Regions from separate parts of the Homo sapiens genome. Here regions 2 and 3 are each linked to region 1. Evidence: fine-mapped expression QTL. A gene starts in region 1. Each other region holds a variant in brackets. All regions are shown on one strand. Distances are from middle to middle.

Region 1 (4,229 bases):
CCAGGACAGAGAGTAGTAGGGCAGGCAGGAGGCAGAGCACACATATGTGCACACACTTGTCTATGTGGACTGGGTACAATCCTGAGTTTCGTGCGCGTCCGTGTGAAGAGACCACCAAGCAGGCTTTGTGTGAGCAACAAGGCTGTTTATTTCACCTGGGTGCAGGCGGGCTGAGTCCGAAGAAAAGAGAGTCAGGGAAGGGAGATGGGGTGGGACCGTTTTATAGGGTTTGGGCGGGCAGTGGAAAATTACAGTCAAAGGGGGTTGTTCTGTGGCGGGGAGGAGTGGGGGTCACAAGGTGCCTCAGTGGGGGAGCTTCTGAGCCAGGAGAAGGAATTTCACAAGGTAATGTCATCAGTTAAGGCAGGAACCGGCCATTTTCACTTCTTTTGTGATTCTTCACTTGCTTCATCTGGATGTATACGTGCAGGCTTGGGCTCAGAGGCCTGACACTGAGCACACGTGTATCGACCCCCCTCTGATCATCCTTCTGATGACCTCACTCAGGAGGCCAGGGTGGGCTGAGAGCCTGGGGATTCCTGGACACAGGCTCTGAGCTGGGGATTTGCCTGCAGAGGCAGACTGGGGCATGCTCCCCACTGAAGGTGACTCCTGGGTGCGGGGGGTTTCAGCTCTGAGCCAGCTGTGACTGGTGCTCCTGGCAGCTGGCGATGAGTGTCTGGGTCTTGGAGCGGGTCTAGGTGGGGTCTGACAGAGTCCACTGCAGGAGGAGACCTGCTGACACCAGATGCCCAGCTGTGGCATGCTTTGGAGGCAAGCCCAGTCCCCAGCTTTCCAGAGAGGACACCACTTCTGGCCCTGCCAGCCTAGTCTGGGCATCCAGGCCCGATAGGGCTTGCTTATCCCTGGCAGGTCAATAATGCTAAGCATGGAGACTGTCCTGTCTCTGGCTGTGAGCCTGGCATGGGAGGGGTGGCACGTGCAGGCTATCGGAGCACTGAGTGTTGGCACTGGGGCAGGCTCCCTCTCACCCGGTGTCCGTGATGCACTGGCAGTCATCCCCTGGTGGAGTTACCCTCCACCCCCTCCAAAGCTTCCATTGTCTCCTTCTACATGAGAATTGTGTTGATATTGCTTGTGTTCAGAGAGCACCCATTATGTGCAGGCACCGCCCTATCCCGTGGCATGGACAAGGATATGGGCAGGGGAATCTTGCCCAGGCTCTGGGATCTACCGGTAAGTGTACCAGCACCTTTAGTTCAAATTCTCCCCTTTTCTGTCTAGCCAAGGAGCAGGCCATTGTCTGCGTCGGGCCCTCAAGTGCAACAGCTCAGTTTGGAGAGGGCTGGTGCCACCCAGACCCAGAGGATGGCACTGAAGCAGCAGCACCTTGTGACCAGCACAGGGCCTGAAGACACATTTGTCCGAGGCATGGGGGGGCACCCTGTAGAGGGGTCCTTAGGGACCCATGGGACGAAGGGATCCCTGCACCCTCTATCCAGAGGAAGCCTTGGCCACCCACCACTCAGAGCTCCTGGACAGCCCTGCCCGTACTCTGCTGTTGGCACCCCTGTCCCCCACCCTGGGAGGGTCAGCCCACCCAGTGTCAGGAGAGAAATGCTGGGAAACTCTCACCAGCAGCCCCAGCGGAAAGCAGAGTGCCATTTTGAGTCCAGCCCAGATTGTGCAGGGATATGAGCCCACCCCGGGGTGGCCGCTGAGCTCTGAGACAGTGAGAAGAGCCCAGAGTGGACACCAGACACTGCGCTGCCTCTGCTGAGTGGCTTCGGGTGGGGCCGGTGCAGCCTGGCCTGAGTGCCTGCTGGTGGAGCGGGGCTTCTGGGGGTAGGGGCACAGGGCAGGGGGAGGGGTAATGACTGTGGTCCTGAACTGAGTGTGTGCATCGGTGTGTACACGTGTGTGTGTGCACGTGTATGTACCCATGAAAGATGTACATGAGTAGGTGGGTGCATGTGAGCACGTGCATGTGCAGGCGAATGAACGCATGAAGTGGAAGGATGTGGGGACGTGTGTGTATGATTGTGAGTGATCGGTGCACATGAATGTGTGTGAGGGAATGTGAGTGCTTAGTGGGATTGGGTGAGTGTGGGATACAGGACTTGTCAGCGTGGGCCTCTGGAGGAGGTCGGGTTTAGGGGAGCCAGGGATACACACCCATCCTCCGCCCTTTACCCCGTGCCTGCTCTCCCTCCTCACCCTCTTCTCAGCACAAATCAGGGCAGGACAGCTCAAGCCTCAATCTGGAGCCAGGGAGAGGCGGAGCCGCCCAGCGCTGACACTGCGGTCCGCTCCCACCAGGTCCTCCGTCGGGCCGAGGCGCTGGAGACCCCAGCCCCAGGTGTCCCCGCAGGCGGACCCTGGGGAGAAGGGAGCCCGGCGGCCTTCCGGGAGGAGGTGACTTGGGCCGGGCAGGCGGGCGGCGCGCATTCCTGAGCTCTGAGTCAGCGCGACCGCCCCGCTCCGGCCGGGCCCGCCCCCGGGCGCACGCCCCTCGCTCCAGGGCATTCCCGGGCGGGCCGGACCGGCGGGCGGGCGGGGACTCGGCGCGGGCCCTCCCGGCCAGCGGCGGCAGCCTCCTCCCCGGCGCCCTCAGGACCCCCCAGAGCCCCCGGCGGCGGCAGTGAGTGAGCGCGGCCGGGAGCGCAGGGCTCCGGGGGCGGGCGGGTTCCGGGGCTGCGTCCGGAGGGCGGGGCGAGTCCTCAGCACCCGGGGCCGGAGCTGCTCAGAGCGGCCGGGGCCGTGTCGGGGCCGGGGCCGGGGCCGGGGAGGGGTCGCGGCGAGGCCCCCCCGGGGCGGCCGGGCTTTTCTTCCTGGAGTTTCCCGAGTCGCCCGCGGAGGCGGCCCAGCCCCGGATTCCTAGCCCGGCGCGCCGCAAAAATAGCCCGTGGCCGGATTAGCAGCCCCAGCGGCCTGGCCGGGCGGGACAGCTCGGCTCCAGCCCCCGCCCAACAGCTGAGGGTCCCAGGAGCGGGAGTCTAGAGTCCGGGGGTGCCCCAGGTTCCTCTGAACTCCCCCCGCTGCATTTTCCTTCCCGGCCACGACCGGCGGGTGGTGTCTCCGAGCTGAAACTCCAGCCCAGGGCGGGATGGTCCCTGTCCCGGCTGCCCTCACCGATGGGAATAGCAGGAGCCGTGGAGCTGGGGGTGGGGGACTGACTCCGCCTTCTGCCCCACGACACTGACTCCCCCATCTGTACACTTCGAAGCTCCAGGGTGGGCTGGGAGCGACTCCCGAAGACAGACTCTCACTCTGTGCGCAGAGGCCAACGGGGACAGGCCTTCTCCCGGCTGGGGTGACAGCCAGACCCCAGATGCTCAGGGCATTGGCAGAGGGCCTGGTTGTCTGTCATGCTGGGGGCATGTTTGTGGGGCTGGGCGGGGAATGGGCAGGGGATCTTCCCTGGCCCCCCAGGGCCTGCTTCCGACCGAGGTGGTCCTGACCAGAGTTTCTTCTGTGTGTGCCGCTTGAGATGGTGAATGTGTGTGTCTGTCCCGGTGGGTGGGGCCTAGGTCTGGAGGCCCTTCTCCTATCCTGGGAACTCCCACCCGCCAACGGGACTTCCTGTTGGAGACCGGGAGAAGATTCAAGGATGAAACTGGCTTTTCAGGTTTGACCCAGCTAGATGCCTGGGCAGTCCCAGGCTCGGTTCTCCTCACCCCTGTGGAGCTAACCCCAACCTCCTAGCCCCGACCCCAAGGGTGGGCAGAAGCTGGGGACCAAGCAGCTGGCTGGGGCTCAAGGGGTCCCTGAGGCGGAGCCCCCTGCCACCAGGGGTCATTCTGGGCAAGCCGGGCCCCTTTTCCTGAGAATGGGGCAGGGGCAAATGGAGTGCATGGGAGTCTGGTGGTGCCAGATTGAAGGGGCCTCAGACCCTTTCCCAGCCCTTCCAAGTAGCTTTCACTGGCTGGGTGGCCTCCGTTGCACAAGCAGGCCCCTCAACCAGCACCCCTCATGAGCTGGCCGGTCCCCACCTTGGGGAGCTGACTTTCTAGGGTGCGCTCTTGGTTTAGGGGGAGTCGTCCAGGTCTCCCCTGCCTTTCAGGGACCATCAGGCCCTCCCCTAGGATCTTCCCAGCTACAGTCCCTGCCCAGGGCACCCCCAGTTGCTCTTGGCTGTGAGGGCCTCCGCCACACCGGCTCCAGTTCCCCCACCTCAGTGTCTGTGCCAGGATCACATTTTGCCCAGTGATTGGATTCCTTGGCTTCTGCCTTTTTTTCTGAGTTGGACGATTTTGGGGGTGAGTCCT
Region 2 (4,125 bases), 26 kb after region 1:
GGCAAGAGCCACCATACCCGGCCTCTTCTCTTCTTTTCAGCCCACACCAGAATCGCCCTTAATGCTCAATTCTTTTTTTTTTTTGAGATGGAGTCTCACTCTGTTGCCCAAGCTGGAGTGCAGTGGCGCGATCTCGGCTCACTGCAAGCTCCGCCTCCCGGGTTCACGCAATTCTCTTGCCTCAGCCTCCCGAGTAGCTGGGACTGCAGGCACCCGACACCACGCCTGGCTAATTTTTTGTGTTTTTAGTAGAGACGGGGTTTCACCATGTTAGCCAGGATGGTCTCGATCTCCTGACCTCGTGATCCGCCTGCCTTGGCCTCCCAAAGTCCTGGGATTACAGGCGTGAGCCACCGCGCCCGGCCCTTAATGCTCAATTCTTGACAATGCAGGCTTTTCCCAGCATTTACTTCAAAACTCTTCCACCATCTAACCATTACTTAGTCTTAGGCATTTTGTTACAGCAGCACAAAATGGACCAAAACAGTCACCTTCCATGTTACGTTTCCAACCAGCCTTCAGCTGGATTTGAGAAGAACCATGGGACTCAGGGAGGGGAGGGGGAGAGTGTGTGAGTCACAGGTCTCCCAGATTCCCTTAGTGTTACAGCGTGGTGGGAATGACATCACTGTTTGTAGATCTACCCTTGTCAAGGGGGATCAAATGAGCAGGGAGGTTCTTTACCATCTTTAAAGATATTAAGTAGTCTGGGCACGGTGGCTCATGCCTGTAATCCCAGCACTTTGGGAGGTTGAGGTGGGCGGATCATGAGGTCAGGAGTTCGAGACCAGCCTGGCCAACATAGTGAAAACCTGTCTCTACTAAAAATACAAAAAAATTAGCCGGGTGTGGTGGCGGGCAACTGTAATCCCAGCTACTTGGGAGGCTGAGGCAAGGAGAATCACATGAACCCGGGAGGCAGAGGTTGCAGTGAGCTGAGATCGCCCCACTGCACTCCAGCCTGGGTGACTGCGAGATTCCATCTCAAAAAAAAAAAAAAAAGATATTATAGTAATACCTACTTTTTTTTTTTTTTTTTTTTTTTGAGTGCAGTGGCACGATCTTGGCTCACTGCAATCTCTGCCTCCTGGGTTCAAGCGATTCTCCTGCCTCAGCCTCCCAAGTAGCTGGGATTAAAGGCGCCCGCCACCACGCCTGGCTAATTTTGTATTTTTAGTAGAGATGGGGTTTCACCATGTTGGCCAGGATGGTCTCGAACTCCTGACCTCAGGTGATCCGCCCGCCTTGGCCTCCCACATATTAAGTAATACCTACTTTTGACAGCCATGAGTAGCATCTTTTTTTAAATGTGGTCACTTCTTTTTTCTCATTGCCAGAGTCGTGTCCCAAATGCGAACATCCTCGTGCTTACTTCATGCAGCTTCAGACCCGCTCTGCAGATGAGCCGATGACCACCTTCTACAAGTGCTGCAATGCTCAGTGTGGACACCGCTGGAGGGATTAGGGCCAGGATGGCCCAGCTGCCCTAGTGTGTGCTTGCCTTGTCCCTCGGGGTAGATGCTTAGCTGGCAGTATGAGTTGTGTGTCCTGAGGGTCTTTGCTAGTGTGGTGGAAAGATAAACCTTTTGAGGTGAAGAGCCAGGGGGTCAGGAAATATGGCCTATCTGCCAGGCAGGGTGGATGAAGTCATGAATGTCTGGGAGTTTTTCTGTGTGGGGAGGAGACAGAGACCCATAACTAAATATGCTCTGTGTAAAGTCCTATTCTTTCATCTTCCACTTTATTGGCAGTTGACATTCCCTTACTCCCAATCAACACTCTTAAATATTTGTACTGTTTGTAAAACTTAGTACATGTCCCTAAATATTTAACTGTTACTTGTAAACTTGTGTAATTTATTATTTATTTTAATCAAAATTCTGAATATTTCATTTAAATGAAAGTTGGAATATTGCCTTCTCAGTGTTTTAAATAGCTTAAGAGGTAGAAAGCAAACCCCAAATCACAGTGATCCCAGAATAGACTACATACTTACATTTGAACAGGCTACGAAAATGTTAATCACCGGGATTTCAATTTCTTTCTTTATTCCTATTCTTACTCCCTTATTCATTTTTTTGAACCTCCCCTGATTTGCTTCCTCGGGTTGCTTTAAATGTATAAGATACTATTTATTTATTTATTTATTT[T/ATTTATTT]ATTTATTTATTTATTTATTTAAGACAGAGTCTTGTTCTGTCGCCCAGGCTGGAGTGCAGTGGTACGAATTCAGCTCACTGCAACCTCTGCCTTCCGGGTTCAAGGGATTCTCCTGTCTCAGCCTCCCAAGCAGCTGGGACTACAGGCATGCACCACCACACCTGGGTAATTTTGCATTTTTAGTAGAGATGGGGTTTCTCCATGTTGGTCGGGCTGGTCTCCAACTCCTGACCTCAGATAATCTGTCTGCCTCGGCCTCCTAAAGTGCTGGGATTACAGGCGTGAGCCACTGTGTCCCACCAATCTTTACATTTAATATGACTATTTTCTTATTGTTTGAACATGTTGATCAGTTCCTGATCACAATATGGGGCCTATCCTATATGGGTCCTAGAGTGGTTGGATTTTATTTTTTAACCTAAACACAGACCCTAGGTTTGAAAGGGTGTACTGGGTCTGTTAGACTTATAGGCATTTTTTTTTTTTTTAATACTTAGCCATGCATCTCTTGCATTGTCACTCCTTTAGGAGTGCATCTGTCTTCTAAGGGTTAGCTCTCCTAACTCTTTTAAATCCCCTCTAATTTGATTAATGATTGGGGGCAGCCTTCTGAACAATATTTCACGGGACGAATACCCAGTTTGTTTGGTGGGGGTGTACCTGACTTGGAGGAGGACCATGGGCGAGACCCGATCTTATTTTAGATGAGTTTCTTGACAAAATTTTTTCAGCAGCTGTTTGAGTGTCTGGTTCGTGCACTGTACTTGAGCTCTGTGGCCTGTAGGATGTACGCAATTTCCACTTTATTTTTAATAGTCTAGTTAAGTCCTGAACTCTTGCAGCCACAAATGTTGGTCCATTGTCTGATCTCAGAGGCAGTCCAAATCTGGGAATAACGTCTCCTAACAACACCTGAGTCACTTCTAGTGCCTTCTCTGTCCAGATGGAGAAGGCCTCGACTTATCCTGAAAAGGTGCAAATGAACACCCACATGCACTGATAGCCCCCCTTTCAGGGCAATTTGGCGAAGTCCATAAGCAGCTTTTCACAGGGCATGGCTGGCTCATGTTTCCTGAACTCCTGGGGGCCAAGCAGGCCCTTGTTATGGATTGTTCTGAACACAAGTTAAACACTGTTTGTTTACAAATGGCTTGAGTAATAGCAGCGAGCCATGGCACATAGAAATGATGCCTTAATAATGTCTTTAGTGCTGTTTGTTTTTTTTCCCATGTGAGTTCCTTGGTGGAACTGTTCTACAAATCGGGGTCACCATTTCAGGTATGGCCTCCCATTGGAGAATTTTACCGTCCTCCTTCAATGTAGTTCTTATTTTTCTGGGCAAACCAAGCCCTTTTATTTGCAGGGGTGCTTGGGATCTCTGGGAGGGAATCTCCGGGAGGAGAGGCATAGCTGAGGCCTCCTCTTTAGAAGGTGGAGTTGTCACTGCAGCCTGCTTTGCCTTTTTGCCTTTCTATTTTTTTTAGCCTTTGGTGTTCTTGCTTTTCGGTGCCTCTCGCAGGGCATCATGGCCACCTCTTTTGGGGCTCATACAGCATCTAAGAGCTGCAAAATTTCTTCCTTGTGCTTTTTTTTTTTTTTACTTTCAGTAGTTAAAAGGCTTTTTTTTTTTTTTTTTTTTGTAAATAGCCTCATGAACATGCAAAGTGGCAGAAGCATATTTGGAATCTTTGTAAATATTTGTCTTTTGGTCTTTTCCTAGCCAGGGAGTTCTTGTCAGAGCTATCAGCTCTGATTTCTAAGCAGAAGTTTCTGTAGGCAAAGACTGCACCTTTACTACTGAGTCCGAAGTCACCACTGCGTACCCAGCTTGGTGGACTCCCTTTAGTATGAAATTGCTTCCATCAGTAGAGTATTCAATGTCTGAGTCCCCGAGGGGCCGATCTGGTACATCTCTCTGGCTTGAGAACACTTTATCTACCAAGTCCACACAGCAATGAAGGGGGCCTCTTGGCA
Region 3 (4,229 bases), 34 kb after region 1:
ATCTGTGCAGGGAGAAGCATATTACAGAAGTGAGAAACGAAGGTAGTTATTTAATTAATTGAGACATGCATTACATCATTTCTCACTTTTCAAAGAAAAACATGTTTTGCGACTTGAGTTTATCTGTCTAGTGACCTTGCAGCTGCACGGCTAGAGAAGCAGGGTCTTCACGATGCCTGGGAAAGGAGGAGAGATAAGGCTCACTAGCCACGGAAAAACAGGCAGTCAATTTTTAAAGGACTCCAGCTCTTTCTCTTTCTCAGGGGAACTGGGTTTTCTTACATACAACTGAGTTTCTGCTTACACATTCTTTAATTTCTTTTAATTCCTGTTCCAACGCAATCCCAGCTCACTGCAGCCTGGACCTCCTGGGCTCAAGCGATCCTCCCACCTCAGCCTCCCGAGTGGCTGGAACTACAGGTGCGCACCATGCCCAGCTTGTTGTTATTATTATTATTATTATTATTTATTATTATTATTATTTTTGAGATGGAGTTTTGCTCTTGTTGCCCAGGGTGGAGTGCAATGTCATGATCTCGGCTCACTGCAACCTCTGCCTCCCGGGTTCAAGCTATTCTCCTGCCTCAGCCTCCTGAGTAGCTGGGATTCCAGGCATGTGCTACCATGCCTGGCTTATTTTGTATGTTTAGTAGAGACGGGGTTTCTCCATACTGGTCAAGCGGGGCTTGAACTCCTGACTTCAAGTGATCCGCCCACCTCAGCCTCCCAAAGTGCTAGGGTTAAAGGCATGAGCCACTGCGTCTGGCCTAATTTTTATATATATTTTTTTGTAGAGACAGGGCTTTGCCATGTTGCCCAGGCTGGTAACTTCCATATGTTTTTTATAGGCAATTTTTTTTATTTTATACTTTTTATTTAATTTTTTTGAATTTAACCTCAGAATGTGATTATAGACAAAATTCAAAACATAATAATTGAGTTTAATTTTTGTAATGTGGGTCTATTACTGAGAAGAGTGGATGCCATTTTGCTTCATTGGGGTTCAAAGTTAGTGTTCCCTGTCATTGAAATCAATTGCAAATGTGCATCTGTGAATGCTGGTTACATCCAGGAGAGCAAATGAAGTATACCATTGACACCACTGATAGAGTCAATAGATTCACCACTGATAATGGATTCAGATATTTCCCACAGAGTTCTTGCTGTTGAATAATGCAGTGAAGTCAGGCACAGTGGCTCACGCCTGTAATCCTAGCACTTTGAGGCTGAGGTTGGCGGATCACCTCAGGTCAGGGGTTCGAGACCAGCCTGGCGAACACGGCGAAACCTCATCTTTACTAAAAATACAAAAATTAATCTGGGTGCAGTGGCTCATGCTGGGCATGGTGGCACAGCTTGTAATCCCAGCTATTCTGGAGGCTGAGGTAGGAGAATCACTGGAACCTGGAAGGCAGAGGTTGCAGTGAGCTGAGATCGTGTCATTGCACTCCAGCCTGGGTGACAGAGTGAGACTCCGTCTCAATAATAATAATGATAATAATAATAATAATAATAATGATGATGGAGTGAAAACCATACACTTTAAGCACTTTATGTTTTCATAAGCTTCGTACATTTGTCCACCTAAGCTTTTTCCTGCCCCACACATGCTTTTACCGCCGCCAGTTTTAACACATATTTACACTTCCTTTTTTGCTGCATTAGTGTCTCATCTTTGGGAATATTCTTGCTGCAGTTGTTTTTTTTTTTTTTTGAGACAGGGTTTCACTGTCACCTAGGTTGGAGTAAAGTGGCGCAATAACGACTCACCACAACCTGAAATTGCCGGGCTCAGGAGATCCTCCCACCTCAGCCTCCCAAGGAGCTGGGACTATAGGCGTGGGCCACCCTGCCCAGCTAAGGGAGGGTGAATGGCTGAGCTTGCCTGAAGACCCTCCCGTGGGTGTGGCAGAGCCTGTGGTCTGAGGGAGGGGTCTAGCTGCAGGGCAGCGCACAGCTTCACAGTGGCCCAGGGAACCAGGGCAGGCAGGCCGTGAGGCCCAGTGGTCATCTGGGCCAGGCCTTGATGCTGAGGCCATGGAACAGGTGAGGCTCTAAGAAGGGCCCAGAGTGACCATGGGCTGGAGGCTATGTCCACAGACCCAGTGCAGGAGAGGGTGTCCTGGGCAGTGATGTCAGCCAGGCTCCCTAGCAGGACTGGGGGTGTCGGGGCAGCTCTTTCCCAGGTGGCAGACACTGGCTTCCCCTCTTGCTCTCACAACTGTCCTGTGACCTGGTGTCTGAGCTGTGGTGAGGCCTCCCTGGTGACACAGAGGAGCACGGAGCATGTGGGTGGGGGTGTGTGCACCTGCCCTGACTTCCTGGTCCTGTGGTCAAGGATGGGGGAAGGTAGATCTGCCTGTAGCTCCACCCTATTTGTAAAGCACTGTGGTGCCTTCTGCTGGGGCATGTGCTGAGTGGTGCCTCGCAGGCACTGCCCTCGGGAAGTTCACAGGCTTGTGTAGAAGCTGATGGG[A/G]ATGTGCCAAGAACAGAGGTGTCAGGAGCCAGGTATTGGGCAGGTCCTAGGTCTCTGAGCCTCAGTCTCCTTATCTGTAGGAGGGTGGTAACCCTGCCCTGCTCAGCTTACCAGGTGCAGCTGTGAGTTTTCAGTGCAGAGGAAAAGCAGAGACCTTCCCCTCAGATGGCCATACCCCCTTGTCGCTATACCCAACACTCTAATGCTCCCCTAGGGAGTGTCCTGGGCTCCTCCTTTGTAGCTCTCAGGTGTCACATGTGGGTCTTGCCCTACCATCCCCTCTCCCTTTCTAGAAATGAGGACTGCTGAGCTTGGAGCCGCCCCACTCCCTGCTCTCAAGCCGTCTGCTCCTGGGTTAGCCTGTGGCTGGCCTGGCCTGATTCTACACCGACGTGGGTGTTTCTCCACTGCTGGGGCAGCGGTCGGCCATCCTGGGGCCTGGGTCAGCTCTCAGCTGTGGCTGTTGTGCCTGTGCTTCCCCAGGTCCTGGTGGTCACTCCAACCCCGCCCTCAGATATCCCAAGAGCAGGCTGACTGTCTTCCCCATTCCCACCTTTCCAGTAGCTGCTGCAAGAAGGGACAGACGTTGCTGCAGAGAACTTGCCACGGTGTTTCATGTTGTGGCCGGTGGTGCCAGACTGCACGCTCCATTCTAGGGAAGGGTGAGTCTTCCCGATCATCAGTCTTAACAGGGGACTGTCCTGTGGGTACCTGGGTAGGCTGCAGGAGTGGGGTTAGAGTAGTGCCTACTGCCTGTTGAGAGTGTGTGAGTTCCTTAAGAGCATGCATGCTGGGCCAGGCATGGTGGCTCATGCCTGTAATCCCAGCACTGTGGGAGACTGAGGCGGGCGGATCATGAGGTCAGGAGTTCAAGACCAGCCTGACCAACATGGTGAAACCCTGTCTCTACTAAAAATACAAAAATTAGCTGGGAGTGGTGGTGCGCACCTGTAATCCCAGCTACTCAGGAGGCTGAGGCAGGAGAATCACTGGAACCCAGGAGGCAGAGTTTGCAGTGAGCCGAGATCGTGCCACTGCACTCTAGCCTCTGTCTCAAAAAAAAAGAAAAAACAAGGCGTGCATGCTGTAGTCTGTGTGTATGTCTGTTTTTGTTCTCCTCCTTAACACTAGTCAGTCTTGTGTAACCAGGCTGGCCCTGCTTCCTGCTTAGAAGCTATTGGTGTATCATCTGGAGCTGCAAATAGGGTGATAGGGCGTCAGTAGCCTTCCCACACTCAAGAGCTTCCTGACACCCAGCCCCTCATCTCCAGCCAGCCTCTGGCTACCCCAGGAATCTTGGGGCTCAGGCCTAACACTCCAGCATAGAGGGCTTTGCCCTTCTGGTGTACTCTCGCTTGGAGGCATCTTGGAACAGGGGTACAACAGAGCTCTGGAAGTGCTGTCTGTTGCATCGATACCCCACTGCCACTTTCGTCCACCTTCCTGGGGCAGAATCCTGGGATGGGTCTTTATTTAAGACAAAAGGGAGAGAGAAGGCATAGAGGCTAGGCATGGTGGCTCACTCCTGTAATCCCAGGACTTTGGGAGGCCGAGGCTGGTGGATCACTTGAGGTCACGGGTTTGAGACCAGCCTGGCCAACACGGTGAAACCGTCTCTACTAAAAATACAAAAAAAATTAACTGGGTGGCAGTGTGCACCTGTAATCCCAACTACTTGAGAGGCTGAGGCAGAAGAATCACCTGAACCCAGGAGTCGGAGGTTGCAGTGAGCCGAGATCACGCCACTGCACTC

The links. PIP is the estimated chance that this variant, and not a neighbour inherited with it, causes the effect. A credible set is the group of variants that fine-mapping cannot tell apart.
Region 2: its variant is the best candidate, but not a certain one, in a credible set for the expression of RHBDF1 in monocytes after LPS (Quach 2016, PIP 0.58).
Region 3: its variant is the best candidate, but not a certain one, in a credible set for the expression of RHBDF1 in monocytes (Quach 2016, PIP 0.71).

The regions. Positions count from the first base shown.
Region 1 is chr16:70,886-75,114 of GRCh38, reverse strand. RHBDF1 (rhomboid 5 homolog 1) reads left to right here and starts at 2,484. Exons shown (of 18, transcript NM_022450.5): 1 at 2,484-2,602. It overlaps LOC124903617 (a long non-coding RNA gene), which reads right to left and starts at 2,288. Exons shown (of 2, transcript XR_007064932.1): 1 at 2,179-2,288; 2 at 125-735. RefSeq lists enhancers at 1-635, 636-1,452, 1,453-2,270, 3,907-4,229 and silencers at 2,425-2,484, 2,731-2,914.
Region 2 is chr16:44,770-48,894 of GRCh38, reverse strand. It overlaps POLR3K (RNA polymerase III subunit K), which reads left to right. Exons shown (of 3, transcript NM_016310.5): 3 at 1,338-2,488. The coding sequence ends at 1,465. Among named protein-coding and RNA genes, the nearest start is that of POLR3K, 6.8 kb to the left of the region's middle. The variant T/ATTTATTT (reference allele first, on the strand shown) is at 2,151.
Region 3 is chr16:37,119-41,347 of GRCh38, reverse strand. No RefSeq gene overlaps it. Among named protein-coding and RNA genes, the nearest start is that of POLR3K, 14 kb to the left of the region's middle. RefSeq lists enhancers at 1,614-2,160, 2,161-2,708. The variant A/G (reference allele first, on the strand shown) is at 2,477.